Regions from separate parts of the Homo sapiens genome. Here region 2 is linked to region 1. Evidence: fine-mapped expression QTL. A gene starts in region 1. The other region holds a variant in brackets. All regions are shown on one strand. Distances are from middle to middle. Region 1 holds the start of EMC1 (ER membrane protein complex subunit 1). Region 2 overlaps EMC1 (ER membrane protein complex subunit 1).

Region 1 (8,000 bases):
CACTATGGAAGTTTTTGCTGGTGCTGCTGCTGGAGGAAAAAGGCCTGGATTGGCAGCTTGGAGATTTTTTTTTTTTCCCCACTAGTATGTTCCCCTGGCCAACAGTCCTATCCCTGGCCAACAGTCCTATACCTACCTTTATAAACCAAACAATTGCAAGCTCTAGAAAAGAACAACCTCTTACCTCTTCTATCAGGTTTTGTTTCAATTCCAAGCCTTTCTTGGCAGTTTTGGTTAAGGAGACTAATAAAAACAAAAAGGAGAGAGATGATGAGAGACCAATCTAAATGCACTGGAGACTTATTTTCTTCTCCCCTTTGGCAGAGAGCACTCAGCTGGATGCAGCCATTCTGAAAAAAGGCAGCAAGGCCTTTGTGGCCATCATTTCTGGCACACAAAGCCATTCCCAGGGCCCATGGAATGCCTACTCATTAGCATTCCTGGGCCTGAAGATCCCTGGATATAACTCCTGCTATTTAGACAAACTAGGCCTTTCTTAGCTCCTAAGGCTGACCCAAAAAACTTGATTGCAGTGTGGGGGTGGAGGCTGTTCCTGCTGCTAGAAGTGCTCTCAGTGGCAGACCTCACCTGCTGGCTGAGGCAGGCCCCTGTTTTTTGTTTTTTTTTTGACATGGGGTCTCACTCTGTCACCCAGGCTGGACTGCAATGGCACGATCTGGGCTCACTGCAACTTTGAGCTCCTAGGCTCAGGCAATCCTCCCACACAGGACTACAGGCACACACCACCATGGCCTGCTAATTTTGGCTGGGACCACAGAAATGCACCACCATGCCCAGGTGAGTTTTGTATTTTTTGCAGAGATGGCTTTTGCCATGTTGCCCAGGTTGGTCTCGAACTCCTGGGCTCAAGAGATCTGCCTACCTCAGTCTCCCAAAGTGTTGGAATCATAGGTGTGAGCCACCATGCCTGGCCCCTTGCTGCTCTTGACCATGATGCAGAGGCCACTCTAGCTGGCCTATGCTGTGCAACCATGAGGCTGGGGACTGAATCTCCTGGTATGTATCTGCACCCCAGTATTGCAATTTGGACCCAAAGACGCAGCAACACCTCTCTGGGGAGGAACATGTACCTCTACTGTAAAAATGGCTGGGGCCCAATTTGCCCTCTACCCACAGAGTTTGGCATTTGCCAGACCTGACCCAGGCCCCTCCACAGAATCAAATCGTTCCAGAAACACTTAACAGAACTCCAACTGCAAAGCCCCGGGCGCCTTCACAAAGGGACCCAGGCCTCTCTTCTTTAACCTGCCCGCACTCAGCCCCTCTTAACTAGGTACCACACAGACAAAGACAATGACATCAGTCAATGGTAAGTGGAGCAGAGGAGGGCAAACGAAATATAGCGGGCCACTTCCCATCATTTCCACTGTTATACCTTTGGCTCAAGCCAGCATCACCCTGTCTTGGATTAATGCTGGTCTCACTGCTTCCATTCCTGCCCTCTGCCCTGTCTTCCCCAACTATTCTCACCAAGGCAACCAGAGTGACCCTTCATAAGTAAAGGTAAATCACATGGGTCCTCTGCTACTCACTTCACCTGGGCAGGAAAGCCAATGCCTTGCCAAGGCCGAGGAAGTCCTGCCCTCTCTGCCTAACTCCCTCCCCAAACTCTATTTGGCTCCTTCTGCTCCAGCCTCACTGGCCTCTTGTCCCAAACACGTCATATCTGCTCCCATTTCAGAGCCTTTTCACTTCAGGTTCCCTCTACTTGGAACAGCATTCTCCCAGATAATTCCACAGCTGCTCAATTCCACAGGTTGCTCGCTTCCTTTCTTTATTTTCTGCTCATTTGTCACTTCATCAGTGAGACCTTTCCCGACCACACTATACAAAATATCAACATCTCTTCACCCCATTTTCAATCTGATTTTTAGCATTTTGCGGAATATGTTTCTCCTAAAACGTTAGGCTCGATAAGAAATAGGCTTTCCTTGTGACTGCTGTATCCTCTAACGCCTAGAAAGTGCCAGACCCCTAAATATTTTTGAATATTCCAGGGAGCCGGGTTAAGAGAGAGGCCACCACAGCAAAGGTGGTCAAAAACGGTCTCTTAAGAGGTGCGCAAGTCGGGTGTAGTGGCTCACGCCTGTAATCCCAGCACTCAGGGAGGGTGGTTGGAGCCCAGGTGTTCGAGACCAGCTTGGCAACACACTGAGTCTTCTCTATAAAAAATAAACAAAAAAAACCTAGCTGGGTGTGGTGGCGTGCGCCTGTAGTCTCAGCTACTCGGGAGGTTGAGGTGGGAGGATCGCTTAAGCCAAGGAGGTCAAGGCTGCAGTGACTTATTTTATTTATTTATTTTTGAGACGGAGTCTCGCTCTGTCGTGCCCAGGCTGCAGTACAGTGGAGCGATCTCGGCTCATTGCAACCTCCGCCTCCCGGATTCAAGCGATTCTCCCGCCTCAGTCTCCCAAGTAGCTGGGATTACAGGCACCTGCCACCATGCCCATCTAATTTTTAGTATTTTTAGTAGAAAAGGGGTTTCACCATATTGGCCAGGCTGGTCGGGAACTCCCGACCTCAGATGATTCGCCCGCCTCGGCCTCCCAGAGTGCTGGGATTACAGGCGTGAGCCACCGCATCCGGCCTGCAGTGTTACGATCGCGCCACTGCACTCCAGCCTGGGCAACAGAGCGAGACCCTGTCTCAGAGGGATCCTATTAACTGACAACTAAGAAGGCGCAAACCATACGAAGATGTAAGCATGCCAGGCAGAAACAACCGCAGACACACAACGCCAGACACGGGAACAAACCTGTGCTGAAAGAAGGGAAAGGCAGCCAGGGTGGCGGGAGCGCAGGAAGATGAGAAAGGGCCGAAGTTGGGAAAAGTGGGCCGAAACGGCAGCAGGCATAGCCGGGGGCGGTGTTCAGGAGCTGCCTCCCGACCCAGTTGGCCTTGCAAGAGCACCTGAAACTAGGCAAAACGAGTCTCCGCTCCCCAGACCCGACCGGGCGTCAGCCACCTCTGGCGGTTTTACAGCCCCGAAGCCCCCATTCCAGCTCGCAGCGAGGCAGCGGAACACCTCGAGGATGTCCTGGCGTTCCAATCTGCGCCCCCGCCGCCCCGAAGCCCTCACCGCAGGCTGGGTAGCCAGCCCACGGAGCTCCCCCCAGGGTCCCGACTCCCCCTTCGCCCACCTTTCTTGTCGCGCTTGGATTTGGGCATCGCGCTGAATCCACGTGCGGCGGAAGACGGTGCACCCCGTTAGGACCCCGGCGGCGCGGGGGACTCTGGGACGGCCCTCGGGGGCTGCCCCTCGCGTGTGCCTGACCCAATGTGCACTGCAGCCTGCCTCTCCCTGCCAAGCCGCCGCCTGCGCTTTCTCCCGCGCCTGTAGGGCAACTTCCCGTGTGCCGAGGCAGTCCCTGAATCCCGAGCGTCCCGTCCGACCGAGGGCCTCGCGCGCTATCCCAGCTCTGTGGTCCCGCGGAGGCGGAGCCCGCGGCGCGGTGCATGCCGGGACGGCGGTGGGTGGTGCATGCGCTCGCATCATGGCGGCTGAGTGGGCTTCTCGTTTCTGGCTTTGGGCTACGCTGCTGATTCCTGCGGCCGCGGTCTACGAAGACCAAGTGGGCAAGTTTGATTGGTGCGTACGTGTGGAACATATTCGAGAGATAAGTGGCTGTTTCCCCAGTACCTGTCTCCTACCTGCTAAAGGTTGTCACTTAACAGGATTGGCCGCATAATTTGCAGGACCCAGTACAAAATGAAAACGTGGGGCCCCTTGTTAAAAAATTATTAAGGATTTAAAGTCGTTGGAAGCAGAGCCTTAAACCAAGTGTTAGGGGTCATTCTAAGCTGATCCTTGCGTGTAAGCCGGCCCTGCCATCCAGGAATGCTTGGGGTGCCGGTCAGAGATCACTGATCCCGTCCTCCCTCGTCAGGTTCGATTTTTTTGACTGTGAGGTTTCTGGTCTACCAGGTGTCAGAGGTCGCCAAGCTGTCAGTGAACTTTAATTCCTACTCGAATTGGTGTCTTGTAGGCAAGTGAACAGGAGCTTTCGTCTTAAAAGTCCTAAACTGAGTCCTTTTCCCCTCTCATCAACCTAGTCTGGCCCTGGGCTCACAGCAGGATTGCCCAAAACACTAAGCAGCTAGAATATGCCATTCACTCATTCATTCATTCACCCACCCACGTCTTCCTTAAGGCCCTGGAGTAGCTTGCTTTTGTTTGAATTTTACTAGTTAAGACTTGTGTGATCTTGGGGAAAGTGACTTAACCACTCTGTGCCTTGGTTTCTTTGTCTGTAGAATGGGTTTACTAACAGTCCGTTATCTCTTACAGTACTTGTGAGAATGAATGAGACAATCCCATTAAATTACTTAGCACAATGCCTGGCTCATTGAATGCAGTCATTAAGCGTTATCTGTTATTATTGCTATTTACACTTTATTCTTCAGGGCCCAGGTCAGATTTCTCCTCCTCTGAAGTATTTTCTGTCTTGGAAAAGTTGATTCGCATATATGTTGAGTACCTGTTATGCCAGACAGTGTGACAAATAAAACATGTTACATTTTTAATGATGTGCACAACTGTTCACAATGTCATATGTGTATGTTACACATATATATCGGGTGATATGTGTATCTAATTTTGCAGAATACTTGATATATGCAATTTTCTTAATTTTATTTTCATGAATGAATGAATGAATGAATGGCATTTCCTAACTGCTTAGTGTCTTGGGCAGCTCTGCTCTGAGCCCAGGGCCAGGTTAGGCTGATGAGGGGGGAAAAGGACTCTGTTTAAGACTTTTTTTTTTTTTTTTTTTTTTTTTTTTTGAGACAGTTTTGCTCTTGTTGCCCAGGCTGGAGTGTAATGGCGCGATCTCATGGCTCACCACAACCTCCGCCTCTGGGGTTCAAGCGATTCTCCTGCCTCAGCCTCCCGAGTAGCTGGGATTACAGGCATGCGCCACCACACCCAGCTAATTTTTGTATTTTTGGTAGAGACAGGGTTTCTCCATGTTGGTCAGGCTGGTCTCAAACTCCCGATCTCAGGTAATCCACCCGCCTAGGCCTCCCAAAGTGTTGGAATTACAGGTGGGAGCCACTGCGCCCAGCCAAGACTTTTTAAAATTTTTTGAGACAGGGACTCATTCTGTAGCCCAGGCTGGAGTACAGTACTATCATGGCTCACTGCAGCTTTGACCTTGCAGGTTCAAGTGACCCTCCCAGCTCAGCCTCCTGAGTAGCTGGGACTACTGGTGCACACCTCTCCAGTTTCTTTGTATTTTTTGTAGAGACGGGGTTTTGCCATGTTGCCCAGGCTGGTCTTGAACACCTGGGCTCAAGCAATCTGGCTGCCTCGGCCTCCCAAAGTGCTGGGATTACAGGTGTGAGCCACTGCACCTGGCCTACAGTTTTCAGATTGAAAAATAAATGAAGACATACAGGTATGCATCACTTAATGATGGGAATACATCCTGAGAAATGCCCTCTTGTGCAAACGTTGTAGCATGTACTTATGTAAATCTAGATGGTTTAGCCTACTACACACCTAGGCTATATGGTACAGCCTATTCTTCCTAGGCTACAAACCTGTACGGCATGTTACTTTACTGAAAACTGTAGGCAATTGTAACACAATGGTAAATATTTGTGTATCTAAACATAGAAAATGTATGGTAAAAATAGGATATGAAAGATAAAAAATGGTACACTGGTATAGGGCACTTAACATGAATGTATCTTGCAGAACTAGGAGTTGTTCTGGGGTTAGTCAGTAAGTGGTTGGTGAGTAAATGTAAAGGCTTAGGACATTACTGTACACTACTGTGGACTTTATAAATACTGTGCATTTAGACTATACTAAATTTATAAAATTTCTTCAATAATAAGTTAACCTTAGCTTAATGTAACTTTTTTACTTTACAAACATTTTATTTTTTTAATTTTTGACTTTTGTAATAATACTTAGTATAAAACACAGACTTTACAGCTGTACAAAAATATATTTTTAAAATTTATTTTTGACATGGGATCTTGCTATGTTCCCCAGGCAGATATTGAACTCCTGGACTCAAGCAAGCCTCCTGCCTCAGCCTCCCTAGCAACTGGGATTACAGGCATATGCTACCATGCCTGACTTAATAATATTTTTCTTATATCTTTATTCTATAAGCTTTTTCCTACAATACTAAAATTTTTTTTTTCAGTCTTAAACTATTTTGTTAAAAACTAAGACACAGGCCGGGCGCAGTGGCTAACATCTGTAATCCTAGCACTTTGGGAGGCTGAGGTGGGTGGATGGCTTGAGTCCAGGAGTTCAAGACCAGCTTGGGGCTGGGCGTGGTGGCTCACGCCTATAATCCCAGCACTTTGGGAGGCCGAGGCGGGTGGATCACGAAGTCAAGAGGTCAAGACCATCGTGGCCAACATGGTGAAACCCCGTCTCTCCTAAAAATACGAAAATTAGCTGGGCGTGGTGGCACACGCCTGTAGTCCCAGCTACTTGGGAGGCTGAGGCAGGAGAATTACTTGAACCTGGGAGACGGAGGTTGCAGTGAGTTGAGATCACGCCACTGCACTCAGCCTGGCAACAGAGCGAGACTCCATCTCAGAAACAAAACAAAACAAAACAAAAAACAGGTTGGGCAATATGGCGAAACCCCATTTCTGCAAAGCATACAAAAATTAGCCGGGCATGGTGGTGGGTGCCTGTAGTCCCAGCTACTCGGGAGGCTGAGGTGGGAGGATCACCTAAGCCTGGGAGGTCGTGGCTGTAGTGAGCTGTGATGGTGCCTCTGTACTCCAGTCTGGGTGACAGAGTAAGAGCATCTCAAAAAACAAGCAAACAAAAAACAAACTAAGACACAAACACATTAGCCTGGGCCTAAATAGGGTCAGGATCATCAATATCACTGTCTTCCACCTCCACATACTGTCTTACTGGCAGGTTTTCAGGAGCAGTAACACCCATGGAGCTATCATCTGTGATAACAATGCCTGTTTCTGGAATACCTCTTTTTTTTTTTGGGACAGAGTCTTACTCTGTCGCTCAGCCTGGAGTGAAGTGGCATGATCTCAGCTCACTACAACCTCCACCTCCCGGGTTCAAGTGATTCTCATGTCTCAGCCTCCCAAGTAGCTGGGACTGTGGTGCACAGCACTATGCCTGGCTAATTTTTGTATTTTTAGTAGAAATGGGGTTTCACCATGTTGGCCAGGCTGTTCTTGAACTCCTGACCTCAGGTGATCTGCTCGCCTCCGCCTCCCAAAGTGCTGGGATTATAGGCATGAGCCACTGCGGCCAGCTTGGAATACCTCTTGAAGCACCTGCATGAGACTATTTTACAGTTAATTTTCTTTTAATAAGTAGAAGGAGTACTCTAACCATAAAAAGTAGATACGTAAACCAGTAACACAGTCATTTATTATCATTGTCAAGTATTATGTAGTATACATTATTGAATATGCTGTACTTTTATACAGCTGGCAGTACAGTGGGTTTGTTTACACCACCTTCACCGCAAACGTGATTAATGCATTCGACTACAATGTTATAGCAGCTACAATGTTACTAGGTTATAGGAATTTTTCAGCTCCATTATACTCTTGTGTGACCACCACTGTATATGCTGTATATGCGATCAATCATTGACTGAAACATTGTTTTGCAGTGCATGACTGTATAGTAAAACGTTAAAAGTATATGTACAAAGCTGGGCACAATGGCATGCACCTGAAATCCCAGCTACTTGGGAGGCTGAGATGGGAGTATTACTTGAGCCCAGGAGTTCAATCCAGCCTAGGCAGCACAGTGAGATCCCATCTCAAATAATAAAAAGTGTATCTATAGTGGTGGTTGTATTAGTTTTCTCAGGCTGCTATAATGAAATACCATAGACTAGGTGGCTTAAACAATAGAAATTGATATTCTCACAGTTCTGGAGGCTGGAAATTCAAGATCAAGGCATTGGCAGGTTTTGTTTCCTCTGAGGCCTCGCTCATTGGCTTGCAAAAGGCTGCCTTCT
Region 2 (12,387 bases), 23 kb after region 1:
CCAGAGACCATGCTCTTTACCTTGCTTCCTTGCATCTGTTTACAAATCTGTGGTCTCCAATGGAGGAGATTTGGAGGGCAGTGGCTTCATTGACGGAATCAGGGAAAGAGTGAATGATGGTCCTGGGAACTCGTTGCAAGTACGTCTGTTGGGTGCAGGTTAAACAGCTGACAAAGTAGGAATGAAGCAATGGGAGATGGAAGTACCTGCTCATGATACATATTCACTGACCTGCACCCTCCACCCCCACACTCATACCTCTTCTGGCTTTGTCATGGCACCCAGAAACCTTCTTTTAGCATCTTGGATGTGGGGCTGTGGTGGAGACATTCACAGCATGGCTGTCTCCTGCATGCCTGATCCCTGACCTCTTAGTCTCCTATTCCAAGATTCCAGCTGGGTTTAGTTGTTAAGAGCCAGTTAAGCAGTTTTTGGAAGCTCCTGCATGAGCCTCACCTGAGTGTGAGACTTTGGGCATCAGATACAGGACTGCCCTTTGGGCTTGTGGCCTAGAGTGTGGACTTTATTGCTCCAGAGGAGAGGCAGAGATCCCTCATTAGGAAAATCATGTACCTCCTTATGGACCCCTAGTCTGATGTAGAGTATGTTACTTTTCCTTTACACCAGATGGCTTGCTGGGGATGTTCCTGAAACGCCTCTCGTCTCAGCTTATCCTGCTGCAAGCATGGACTTCCCACCTCTGGAAAATGTTTTATGATGCTCGGAAGCCCCGGAGTCAGATTAAGAATGAGATCAACATTGACACCCTGGCCAGAGATGAATTCAACCTCCAGAAGATGATGGTGATGGTAACAGCCTCAGGCAAGGTGAGTGGGGTTTAAGCTCCAGTTACTGAACCTTTTCAAATTCTGAGGGTGAGGAACAAAAAGCCTTCAGTGAGGGATAACACTGGTTCTAGTTTTCAAGGACAGACTCAGTTCTTTGGTTTCTCTTTCTAGTAGTGAGCCAAGTATTTGTTTATCTTGCAGCTTTTTGGCATTGAGAGCAGCTCTGGCACCATCCTGTGGAAACAGTATCTACCCAATGTCAAGCCAGACTCCTCCTTTAAACTGATGGTCCAGAGAACTACTGCTCATTTCCCCCATCCCCCACAGTGCACCCTGCTGGTGAAGGACAAGGTGAGGCATCCAGCTCTGACTTGAGCCAGACTCAGTGTGGCTTTTTTGCTATTTTGTAACTTAAATTGCTCCTAGGCCCTTGGAATTGTGTGAGTTAATGAGGAACATTCAGGGGTTAGAACTCTGTTTCTTCTAGTTTCATGCATGGGTGGAGGAACCATCCAGCACTGATGTGGAATTGTTTAGAAAGTGGGTGTGACTTCACCAGCTATGTAGGGAGCCAGCTCTCCTCTTTTCTAAACATTGGCTGTTGGTTGCTGAGTGGCTATTTTCTCTTCTCTCTTTGAGGAAGAGCAGGACACAAAGATATTTTTGTGTCTTCCCAGAATTAGAATGGATTTTTGTGTATTCATTCTAGCATAGAAGGCGGGCTTGGTAGACACTTTCCTGGAACGGCTGCCTGGTGCGATCTCGGCTCACTGCAGCCTCCACCTCCCAGGTTCAAGCAATTCTTGTGCCTCAGCCTCCCGAGTAGCTGGGATTACAGGCACACGCCATCATGCCCGGCTGATTTTTGTATGTTTAGTAGAGACAGGGTCTCACCATGTTGGCCAGGCTGGTCTCAAACTCCTGACCTTAGATGATCCACCTGCCTCGGCCTCCCAAAGTACTGGGATTACAGGTGTGAGCCACCACGCCCGGCCAGGTTGCTGAATTGTTACTTGACTTTTTTATTAGTTCTTGTTTAGAACTGGCAGAGCAGCCAGGCGCGGTGGCTCACGCTTATAATCTCAGCACTTTGGGAGGCCAAGGAGGGCGGATTGCTTGAGTCCAGGAGTTCGAGACCAGCCTGGGCAACATGGTGAAACCCCTCTCTACAAAAAATAAAAACAGAATTAGCCACGTGTGGTGGTTTGTGCCTGTAGTCCCAGCTACTTGGGAGGTTGAGGTGGGAGGATCACTTGAACCTGGGAGGCAGAGGTTGCAGTGAGCCTTGATCATGCCACTGTACTTCCAGCTTGGGTGATAGAGAGAGACCCTGTCTCAAACGAAAAAGAACTGGCAGAGACAGTTTGACTTTTTTCTTTGTGACGTTAGCCTAGGGGACTATTCACCTACAGCCAAGAACTTATTTTCCACAAAGAGGGCAAAGACTAGAGAACCCCCACAGTTGTTGAGCTGGAGTCCCAGCTCTTCAGGTCTATCCCTAGGATTTGCAGTCTTTTCTTGTTGGTGGAGCCTGACAGTTTGCTCATTTTAGGAGTCGGGAATGAGTTCTCTGTATGTCTTCAATCCCATTTTTGGGAAGTGGAGTCAGGTAGCTCCCCCAGTGCTGAAGCGCCCCATCTTGCAGTCCTTGCTTCTCCCAGTCATGGATCAAGACTACGCCAAGGTGTTGCTGTTGATAGATGATGAATACAAGGTACTGTCTTCAGAGGGGATGGAGAACATGCTAGCGGAGTCCGGTTTGGGGCCAGGTGGTCAAACACAGCGGCCCGGAGATGGAGTGCTCTCTGCACCCAGCACGTGTTTGGGCTCTAAGGCCATCCCGAAGAGAAATGATGGCTGTGTCTGCATTTGTGAAAACTCAGGTTCTTAACAGAACTGAATGTAAACCCTAAACTGAGTTCAAATCAACTGATTTGCAGTTTTATTCTTAAGGCTCTCTTTGATGGGGAAATTTCCTAACTCTTTCCTTGGGCTCTCTGGGTTTTTCAAGGTCACAGCTTTTCCAGCCACTCGGAATGTCTTGCGACAGCTACATGAGCTTGCCCCTTCCATCTTCTTCTATTTGGTGGATGCAGAGCAGGGACGGCTGTGTGGATATCGGCTTCGAAAGGTAGGAAGGCATGTCCTGGCACAACCCTTTGTGGATGAGATGCAGGTGTTTCCTGGCCATTTGGCTAAGAAGTGAATTATGCTACTCATTCTACTGTAAACTTAGATTAGCATAATCCTGATGTCTGATACAAAGTCAATCATTTGTTCATATTTGTTGGGCAGCTACTACATGGCAGATACGGTTCTAGGTGCTGTGGATGGAGTGGTGCACAGTAGAACAAATCTCTGCCCTTGTGGAGCTTTCATTCCACATTCTTTTTCTTTTTTTTTTTGAGATGGAGTCTTGCACTGTCGCCCGGGCTGGAGTGCAGTGGTGCGATCTCGGCTCACTGCAACCTCTGCCTCCTTGGTTCAAGCGATTCTCCTGCCTCAGACACCCAAGTAGCTGGGATTACAGGCGTGCGCCACCGCGCCCGGCTAATTTTTTGTATTTTTAGTAGAGACAGGGCTTTGCTGTGTTGGCCAGGATGGTCTCAAACTCCTGACCTTGTGATCCACCTGCCTCAGCCTCCCAAAGTGCTGGGATTACAGGCGTGAGCCACCGCGCCTGGCCCCATTATTTTTCTATAGCAGAGAGATGGGACTTTTTTTCCATTCTTGGGAGGGTAGAAGGTAGGAATGTGGGTTGAGTAATAAGTTGTACTTTTATATGAAGATGATGTTGACCAACTCGTGATGGAATGTGTGCTTTGAATTTTATTTCTAGAAAGGGGGTCAGTTTGCTTTAATCCTCACATACTTGAGACCAACTCTTGTAAACAGTAATACACGCTGGCTGTGAAGTCCAGCTCTGAAGTTCACGAGGGGCTGGCATGGCCTTGTTAGCAGGACTGTTTGGAGAAGTACTCTGTGGTGTGTACTCACAAACAGCTCTCCCATCCTGTCCTGTAAGGCCTTTTGAGAGGCATAGAGTTTAACCAATTTGCTAGATTGGAAGTCTAGGTTTGTCACTTACTAACTTTGTGACCTTGGGCTCTGGTCTTCTGTTTTCTTATCTGTAAAATAAGGTGATAAGTACCTGTCTCATAAGGTTGTTGTGAGAATTCAACACATAAATCACATAAAACTGCCTGGCACATGGTAAATGCCATCTGAGTTGGAGGTGCTGTTGTTTTGAAAATGCAGCGCCCTTTTGTGACATTTGTAACAGCTAACCTTAGCATAAACAGCACTGGAAATGGTCTGCCCAGAAGACACATCCTTTACCCTTGTGAATGAAAACATAAATAAATAAAATCATCCTTCTGAGTTAATAAAAAGAGGACCTTGAAAGAGACAGTTTTGTAGATTCAGGGGAGTGAACTGGAGTGTGGGTGTCATGAATCTGGAGTCCTGAGGACATCATCTGAGTGAACAATGACCAAGGAAGACAAAGGAGGCAGAGCTGTCTGTGGGAAGTGAGCCAGCTGTGTGCGCGAGTCCGGGACCACAAGGGAGTGTGCTGCCTTTGCCCTCACTTGGTGACCTTCCTCTCTGGGGATGTTTTAGTGAGTTCTTATGTTTTCAAAGAAGGTTGTGGCAATGAAGGCTTATTATTAATAATTTTCACTATTTTAAAAATTTAGGTAATACATTGAGTATATTCTCATTGTAAAAGAGTCCATTGATACAGAGAGGTGAACAAGCAAAATGTGAACAGACCCTTGTAGCCCCATTCCCAGCGGTCTTCCCCTCCCCAGGTGGAAAGCCTGTCAGCAGTTTGCTGTGCCTCTTTCTACTGTCCTTGTGTATTTATGATTCC[C/A]TATCAACAGCTGTGTGGACACACGTGTGTGGCTCATACTTTATTTATTTTTTTTTAGAGACAGAGTCTCGCTCTGTCACCCAGGCTGGAGTGCAGGGGCGCAGTCTCAGCTCACTGCAACCTCTGCCTCCTGGTTTCAAGCGATTCTCCTGCCTCAGCTTCCCAAGACTACATGTGCACGCCACCATGCCTGGCTAATTTTTGTATTTTCAGTAGAGACGGGGTTTCACCATGTTGACCAGGCTGGTCTCAAACTCCTGACCTCAAGTGATCCTCCCGCCTCGGGCTCCGAAAGTGCTGGGATTACAGGTGTGAGCCACCACGCCCGGCCCATTTTATTTTTTTTTCTCATTCACATGCAATTGACCTATATTTATTCTTATGAAATTTGCTTTTTTTCATTTAATGGGTTTTCTACCTCATTGTTTTGTCAACTTCAGTTTTTTATTACAGAAAAATATTGACAAAAGTGCAAAATCATGAGGTATGGCTCAGTGAACCCTCACCAAGGGAATACACTTGTGTACCTGGTGACCACTTCAGGAAACAGAATAGCACCAGCTCCTAGAAGGCCCTTGTGCCCTTTGCCAGTAACTACCTCCTGTCTCCACCCCCAAGGGCTCCGCATAATTCCATAGGATGGATGTATAATAATGTATTTAACCATGAGTGTTTATTGGTTGGTTTCCTATGACCATAAACAATCATACACGAAATGTTTTGAGCTCCCTGTTAGCTTAGACATTCACTGCTGGCCCCAGTATACAGGGATCTTGGAGTTTAGTAATAAATGGTAAATTTTCCTTGCATATTTCCTACTCAGATAAACAACGGGATACTATTGAGCGTTCGCCTCCTTTCCTACTGGCTTTATTATCTTTTTTTTTTTTTTTTTGAGCCGGAGTTTCGCTCTTGTTGCCCAGGCTGGAGTGCAATGGTGCAGTCTCGGCTCACTGCAACCTCCACCTCCTGGGTTCAAGTGATTCTCTTGCCTCAGCCTCCTGAGTACCTGGGATTAAAAGCATGCGCCACCACACCCGGCTAATTTTGCATTTTTAGTAGAGATGTGGTTTCTCTATGTTGGTCAGGCTGGTCTCAAACTCCCGACCTCAGGTGATCCACCTGCCTCGGCCTCCCGAAGTGCTGGGATTACAGGTGTGAGCCACCACGCCCGGTCTAGTATCTATCTTAATCAAACCGAGAGTTCTGAAATTTCTTCATAAACTAGATCTCTATTGCTGTTTTTCTGGTTTATTTTTTGTTTTGAGTCTTGCTCTGTCACTCAGGCTGGAGTGCAGTGGCGTGATCTCAGCTCACTGCAGCCTCTGCCTCAGCCTCCCGAGTGGCTAGGATTATAGGTGCCTGCCACCACATCTGGCTAATTTTTTGTATGTTTAGTAGAGATGGGGTTTGGCCATGTTGGCCAGGTTGGTCTTGAACTCCTGACCTCAAGTGATCCGCCCGCCTTGGCCTCCCAAAGTGCTGGGATTACAAGAATGAGCCACTGCTCCTGGCTCATTTTTCTAGTTCTGATCTCTATTCCTTCCTGCACAAAGGCCTCAAATAATGAACTGTAGGATGTGTCTAACTCCAGCTGTTTCAGTTCTAAGTGTACCCTCCTGATTACAGGCTTTTTTGCCCCTGCCCTAGGATCTCACCACTGAGCTGAGTTGGGAGCTGACCATTCCCCCAGAAGTACAGCGGATCGTCAAGGTGAAGGGGAAACGCAGCAGTGAGCACGTTCATTCCCAGGGCCGTGTGATGGGGGACCGCAGTGTGCTCTACAAGGTACATACAGCCAGCTGTCTGGTCTACAGCAAGGGCTTTCGAATCAGGAAAACAAGGGCTTCAAGTCTGGCTGTAGGACTTGGTACATATATGACCTTGAGTAAGTCATTTAATCCCTTTGAGCCTTAATTTTTGTTTGTGAAATGGGGATAATATACCCTCCTCCTGGGCTTGTTGTGATGATCACATGGGATGTTCATGTCTAGCCCAGTGCCTAGCATATGGTAAGTAAGCAACAGATGTTAGCTCTTATTTTTTTGACTTTTTTTTTGTTTGTTTGTTTCCTGTGACAGAGTCTTGCTCTGTTGCCCAGGCTGGAGTGCAGTGATGCAGTCATGGCTCACTGCAGCTTCGTCCTCCTGGGCTTATGCAATCCTTTCACCTCAGTCTCCCAAGTAATTGGAACCACAGGCACATGTCATGCTAATTTTTTAAAAACGGCTGGGCTTGGTGGCTCATGCCAGTAATCCCAGCATTTTGAGAGGTCGAGGTGGGTGGATTACTTGAGTCCAGGAGTTTGAGGCCAGCTTGGGCAACATGGCTGAAACCTTGTCTTTACCACCCCCAAAAAAAAAAAACAAAAAAAACAATTAGCTGGGCATGGTGGTGCATGCCTGTGGTCTCAGCTACTCGGGAGGCTGAGGTAGGAGGATCACCTGAGCCTGGGGAGGTTGAGGCTACAGTGAGCTGCAATTGTGCCGCTGCACTCCAGCCTGGGTGACAGAGTGAGACCCTGTCTCCAAACAAACAAAAAAAATTTTTTTTAAATTTTTTATTTTTGTAGAAGATAGAGATCAACCTAGGAAACATAGTAAAACCCTGTCTTCAAAAAAAAATTTTTTTTTAATTTTTTATTTTTATATTGACAGGGTCTCACTATGTTGCCTAGGTTGGTCTCTATCTCCTGGCCTCAAGCAGTTCTCTTACCTTAGCCTCCCAAAGTGTTGAGGTTAGAGACTTGAGCCACTGCGCCTAGCCCAGCTCTTATTACTAGTGGTAGTACTGATAGAGCATTCTGGGGTTAAACCATAGTCGAGCCATCAGAAACTCCATCTCTGTGATCCAACACTCTAGTTAGTGTTAAAGAGAGGGAGATTAAGGTGACTAGTGGGCTGCAAAACTGTTATGGGAGAGAATGTAATGATAGTAGTAATGCACATTAATTACACCCTCTGGTACAGCAGAGACTGAATTGGAGGGGGTGTCATAGAATAGAGATCACGGAACTTGACGGTAAAGCTGGATCACTAAGCATGAGCCAGTGCAACACAGTGCAAGCCTCTAGTTTGACTGTTAAGACTTGGCTCTGCCGTGGCCTAGCTGTTCATCTCTTAGGCTGCCTGAGCTTCAATTTTCCCCAGTATAATGGGGATAATAGCACCAACGTCAGAGGATTGTTTTGAAGATTAATGATAACATGTAAAGTGATTAGAATAGTGCCTGCCACATACTTAACATTATTATTAGTGCTATTGACTCTTTTTTTTTTTTTTTGAGACAGGGTCTTGCCATGTTGCCCAGGCTGGAGTGCAGTGGTGTGATCACAGCTCACTGCAGCTTTGACCTCCCGGGCTTAAGCAGTCCTCCCATCTCAGCCTCCTAAGCAGCTGGGACAACAGGTGCATGTCACCATGGCTTATTTTCTTTTCTTTCTTTTCTTTTTTTTTGAGATGGAGTCTTGCTCTTTCACCAGGCTGGAGTGCAGTGGCACGATCTTGGCTCACTGCAACCTCCACGTCCCAGGTTCAAGAGATTCTCCTGCCTCAGCCTCCCGAGTAGCTGGGACTACAAGCGCGCACCACCATGCCCAGCTAAATTTTGTATTTTTAGAGATGGGGTTTCACCATGTTGGCCAGGATGGTCTTGATCTCTTGATCTCGTGATCTGCCCGCCTTGGCCTCCCTAAGTGCTGGGATTACAGGCGGGAGCCACCGTGCCCAGGCACTTATTTTATTTTCTTTAGAGATGGGGTCTTGCTGTGTTGTTCAGATTGGTCTTAAACTCCTGGGCTCAAGCAATCCTCCCATCTTGGCCTCCCAAAGTGTTAGGATTACAGGCATGAGCCACCGCACCCGGCCAGCAGCAAGCAGTTTTTGAGTGCTAGCTGGATGCAGGCACTCATTTAGACACTGGGATATAAAATGGGCAAAACAGACAAAACTTCCTGACCTCGTGAGGCTTTCATCATAGTTGGGTGAGGCTAATAATAAAGAAAATAAATAGGTAAATTAGATAGTATATTAGAAAGTGACCAGTTCTATAGAGAAAAATAAAGCCGGGAAGAGGGAAAGCAGGTACAGTGTAAGTCGGGTGGCTAAGGAGGGGCTTAGTGAGAAAGTGGCACGGAGTGAGTGGACTTGAGTGAGGAAGTGAGTTGTGTGGGTAGCTGCGGGGAGAGCCTTCCAGAGAGAAAAGTCAAAGTGCTCCTGGTATGTGTGAGAAACAGCAAAGAAGACCAGGTAACTAGAAGATGATGAGTGAGGAGGCATGTCAGGCCTGCTGAGGGCAGAGGGCAACAGGGCCAGATCACAGGCCACCACCGTGGCCTTCACTTTGGAGCACGGTGAAGAGCCACTGGGAAGTTTTCAGCAGAGGAGTGACATCAGTGACTGAGATTCCACAGGCTCATTTGACCTAGATTAGACTGTAGAGGGGTGAGGAGGAAAGCAGACCATTTAGGCTGTGGGGTCATCCAGGTGCTGATGGTGGCTGGAGCTGGGCTGGTAGCATGGAGGTGGGAAGGAGGGATCAGGTTCTGGGTACTTTTGAAGGTAGAGCCAAGAGCAGGTATATGTGTGTTACAGAGAAAGGAGTCAAGGATAACTCGAGGCTTTAGGTCTGAGCCACTGATGTATGGAGTCGTGACTGGCTGGGGAGGAGAGAGGAGCAGATTTTAGGCAGGAGTTAGAACAGTTCAGCTTGGGCCATGTTAAGTTTCAGATGAAACATCTGAGAAAAGATACTGAGATAATTTCTTAGTGAAGTCTGGAGTTCAAAGGAGTATCTGGTTTGGATATATACATTGGGCATTGCCAACATCCATAAATGGTGTTCAAGCCATGAGATTGGCTTGAGATCACCACGAGGGTAAGTGTGACGGAAATGCTCAAGGCTTGAGAGCTTTCTGATGTGTTCCACCATGAAGAAACTGGGGAGATGTGGAAGAACCTCCAAAAGAGACTGAGAAGGAGAGGCCAGTAAAGTAGAAGGAGTGCTGGGCAGGGATGTTCTGGAAGCCAGGTGAGAAAATGTCGCAAGGAGGTAGTGATCACCTGCGTCACGTGGTACTAGTGGGTCAAGTAAGTTGAGGGCCAAGACTTAGCCACTGGATTTAGCGATGGGGAGGGGGGTGGTGACCCTCAGAAGAAAAATATCACTGCAGCATTTGTCCCTAGGTCAATGAGTGGGCAGACCTGGATTTTGTCTTGGGTTACCATTTGCTATCTGTGACTTGAAAAGCTGCTTAACTACTTTGGGACTTTTCTGCAAAATGTGGACCATAATAGCTACTCTGCAAGACTGTTTAAGGGATTAGATAAAATACAAGGTACCTGGCATGGCACCCAGTACCCAATGCACATAAAACAAGTGCAGTGATGAGAAATTCCAAACAGGAAGCTCTTTTCACCAGAAACCCTGATTCCTCTGCCAGGCTGGAGAGCTCCAGGTTGGTCTCACAGCACAGGAATGGAGTGTGTGATGAGTCGTCGTGGTTCTAAGGGAGGTTTTCTCTCTCTCTCCAGAGCCTGAACCCCAACCTGCTGGCCGTGGTGACAGAGAGCACAGACGCGCACCATGAGCGCACCTTTATTGGCATCTTCCTCATTGATGGCGTCACTGGGCGTATCATTCACTCCTCTGTGCAGAAGAAAGCCAAAGGCCCTGTCCATATCGTGCATTCAGAGAACTGGGTGGTGGTAAGCGGTCACTACCAGGGACCCAAGGTAGCTCCAGAGGTCTCCCTGCCTCCTGAGTCCTTTCCAGAAACCCAGTTGCTGCTTTGGTTTTCTTAGGATCTCAAATTCCCTGGATGGCAGCAAAGCGTGCCGGTTAGGGCACTGGGCTCAGGAATCAGATTGCCTAGGTTTAATCTTACCTCTTCCGTTTCCTGACTGTATAACCTTGAACTAGTTATGTACACGCTCTGTGTTGCATCATTGTTAAAATAGGGATAATAACAGTCACCTTCAGTCTAGCAAAGAACAATGCCTGGCACCTAGTAATGATTCAAAGGTTAGCTACTATTATGGCTTCTAAGACTCTTGAGAATTTCCTTTGTTTTGTGGTGAACTTTCGATAGCCTAGATAAAACTACTTTGAAAGTTAGTAAACTTGATAGTAAGGAAGAAAAGTGAGGTGCTAGTTGATGGTTCTCCTTCATGGATCTGTAGCTAATTAGAGGGGTGCCTTCCAGTGCAATTTCCCTTTCCAGTTGAAGCAGCTGCTAAGCCCTGAGCTGCCACCTCCTATCCCTGCAGTACCAGTACTGGAACACCAAGGCTCGGCGCAACGAGTTTACCGTACTGGAGCTCTATGAGGGCACTGAGCAATACAACGCCACCGCCTTCAGCTCCCTGGACCGCCCCCAGCTGCCCCAGGTCCTCCAGCAGTCCTATATCTTCCCGTCCTCCATCAGTGCCATGGAGGCCACCATCACCGAACGGGGCATCACCAGCCGACACCTGCTGAGTGAGTGACTGGGGAGCCTCTGGGATGGCTGGGTTCCCTTGGGCAACCACACTTAAGGACAGAGCAAGGGACACATTGCTGGCAGAGCCTTGTTGAACCACCTGTAAGGGAAAGGTGGTGAGGAGGGCTATATATCGGTGGAAAAAGTTTCTTAGTTCATCTTTGCCACCTATGAAGGTGACCACTTCTCTCTCAGTTCTCATCTTTTTTTTGTTTTTCGAGACAGGGTCTCACTCTGTCATCCAGGCTGGAGTGCAGTGGTGTGATCATGACTCACTGCAGCCTCAACCTCCTGAGCTCACCTGGCTAATTAAAAAAATTTTTTTTGGTAGAGACAGGGATTTGCCATGTTGCCCAGGCTGATCTAGACTCCTGGGCTCATGTGATCCTCCTGCCTTGGCCTCCTGAAGTGTTGGGATTACAGGTGTGAGCCATCGTGCCTGGCTGCCTGGCCTTCAGTCCTCATTTCTGATATACCACCTCTCTATTTGGCATTTTCACCTAGCTCAAAAAGTCAGTTCCTGATAGCATTGTTAACATAGCTAGCCTGTGCTGACAGCTTGCAGAAACTGGCAGGGTCTATTGCCCAGGCTGGAGTGCAGTGGCACGATCTTGGCTCACTGCAACCTCCGCCTCCTGGGTTCAAGTGATCCTCCTCCTCAGCCTCCCAAGTAGTTAACAGGCGTGCACCACCACGCCCGGCTAATTTTTGTATTTTTAGTAGAGATGGGGTTTCGCCATGTTGGCCAGGCTGGTCTTGAACTCCTGACCTCAAGTGATCCGCCTGCCTTGGCCTCCCAAAGTGTTGGGATTATATGTGTGAGCCACTGCGCCAGCCCTAAAATCTCATCCTTATGTAACCTAAGCCCAGGACTTAGGACTTAGTGGTTAACAGGTTCCTGTGTTTAGTTGATTTTACCGAAGATGTTTGGGACTCTCAGATCTGATGGGCACTTGGCATTGCTGTTGCTTTTTTTTTTTTTTTTTTGAGACAGAGTCTTGCTCTGTCACCCAGGCTGGAGTGCAGTGGTGCGATCTCAGCTCACTGCAACTTCAGCCTCCCTGGTTCAAGTGATTCTCCTGCCTCAGTCTGCTGAGTAGCTGGGACTACAGGTGCGTGCCACTGTGCCCAGCTCATTTTTAAATTTTTGGTAGAGACGGAGTTTCACCATGTTGGCCAGGATGGTCTCAATCTCCTGACCTTGTGATCCACACCTGCCTCGGCCTCCCAAAGTGCTGGGATTACAG

What was found.
Region 2: its variant is fine-mapped to the expression of EMC1 in tibial artery (GTEx, PIP 0.96).

Annotation. Positions count from the first base shown.
Region 1 is chr1:19,247,025-19,255,024 of GRCh38, reverse strand. It overlaps EMC1 (ER membrane protein complex subunit 1), which reads left to right and starts at 3,501. Exons shown (of 23, transcript NM_015047.3): 1 at 3,501-3,610. The coding sequence starts at 3,516. It overlaps MRTO4 (MRT4 homolog, ribosome maturation factor), which reads right to left and starts at 3,220. Exons shown (of 8, transcript NM_016183.4): 1 at 3,162-3,220; 2 at 185-243. The coding sequence starts at 3,189. RefSeq lists enhancers at 265-764, 765-1,266, 3,083-3,588 and a silencer at 828-973.
Region 2 is chr1:19,221,376-19,233,762 of GRCh38, reverse strand. EMC1 (ER membrane protein complex subunit 1) reads left to right here. Exons shown (of 23, transcript NM_015047.3): 14 at 628-827; 15 at 990-1,139; 16 at 2,341-2,502; 17 at 2,800-2,919; 18 at 6,313-6,450; 19 at 10,194-10,367; 20 at 10,929-11,139. All of the region lies in intron 1 of EMC1-AS1 (EMC1 antisense RNA 1), which reads right to left. Among named protein-coding and RNA genes, the nearest start is that of EMC1-AS1, 17 kb to the right of the region's middle. The variant C/A (reference allele first, on the strand shown) is at 4,663.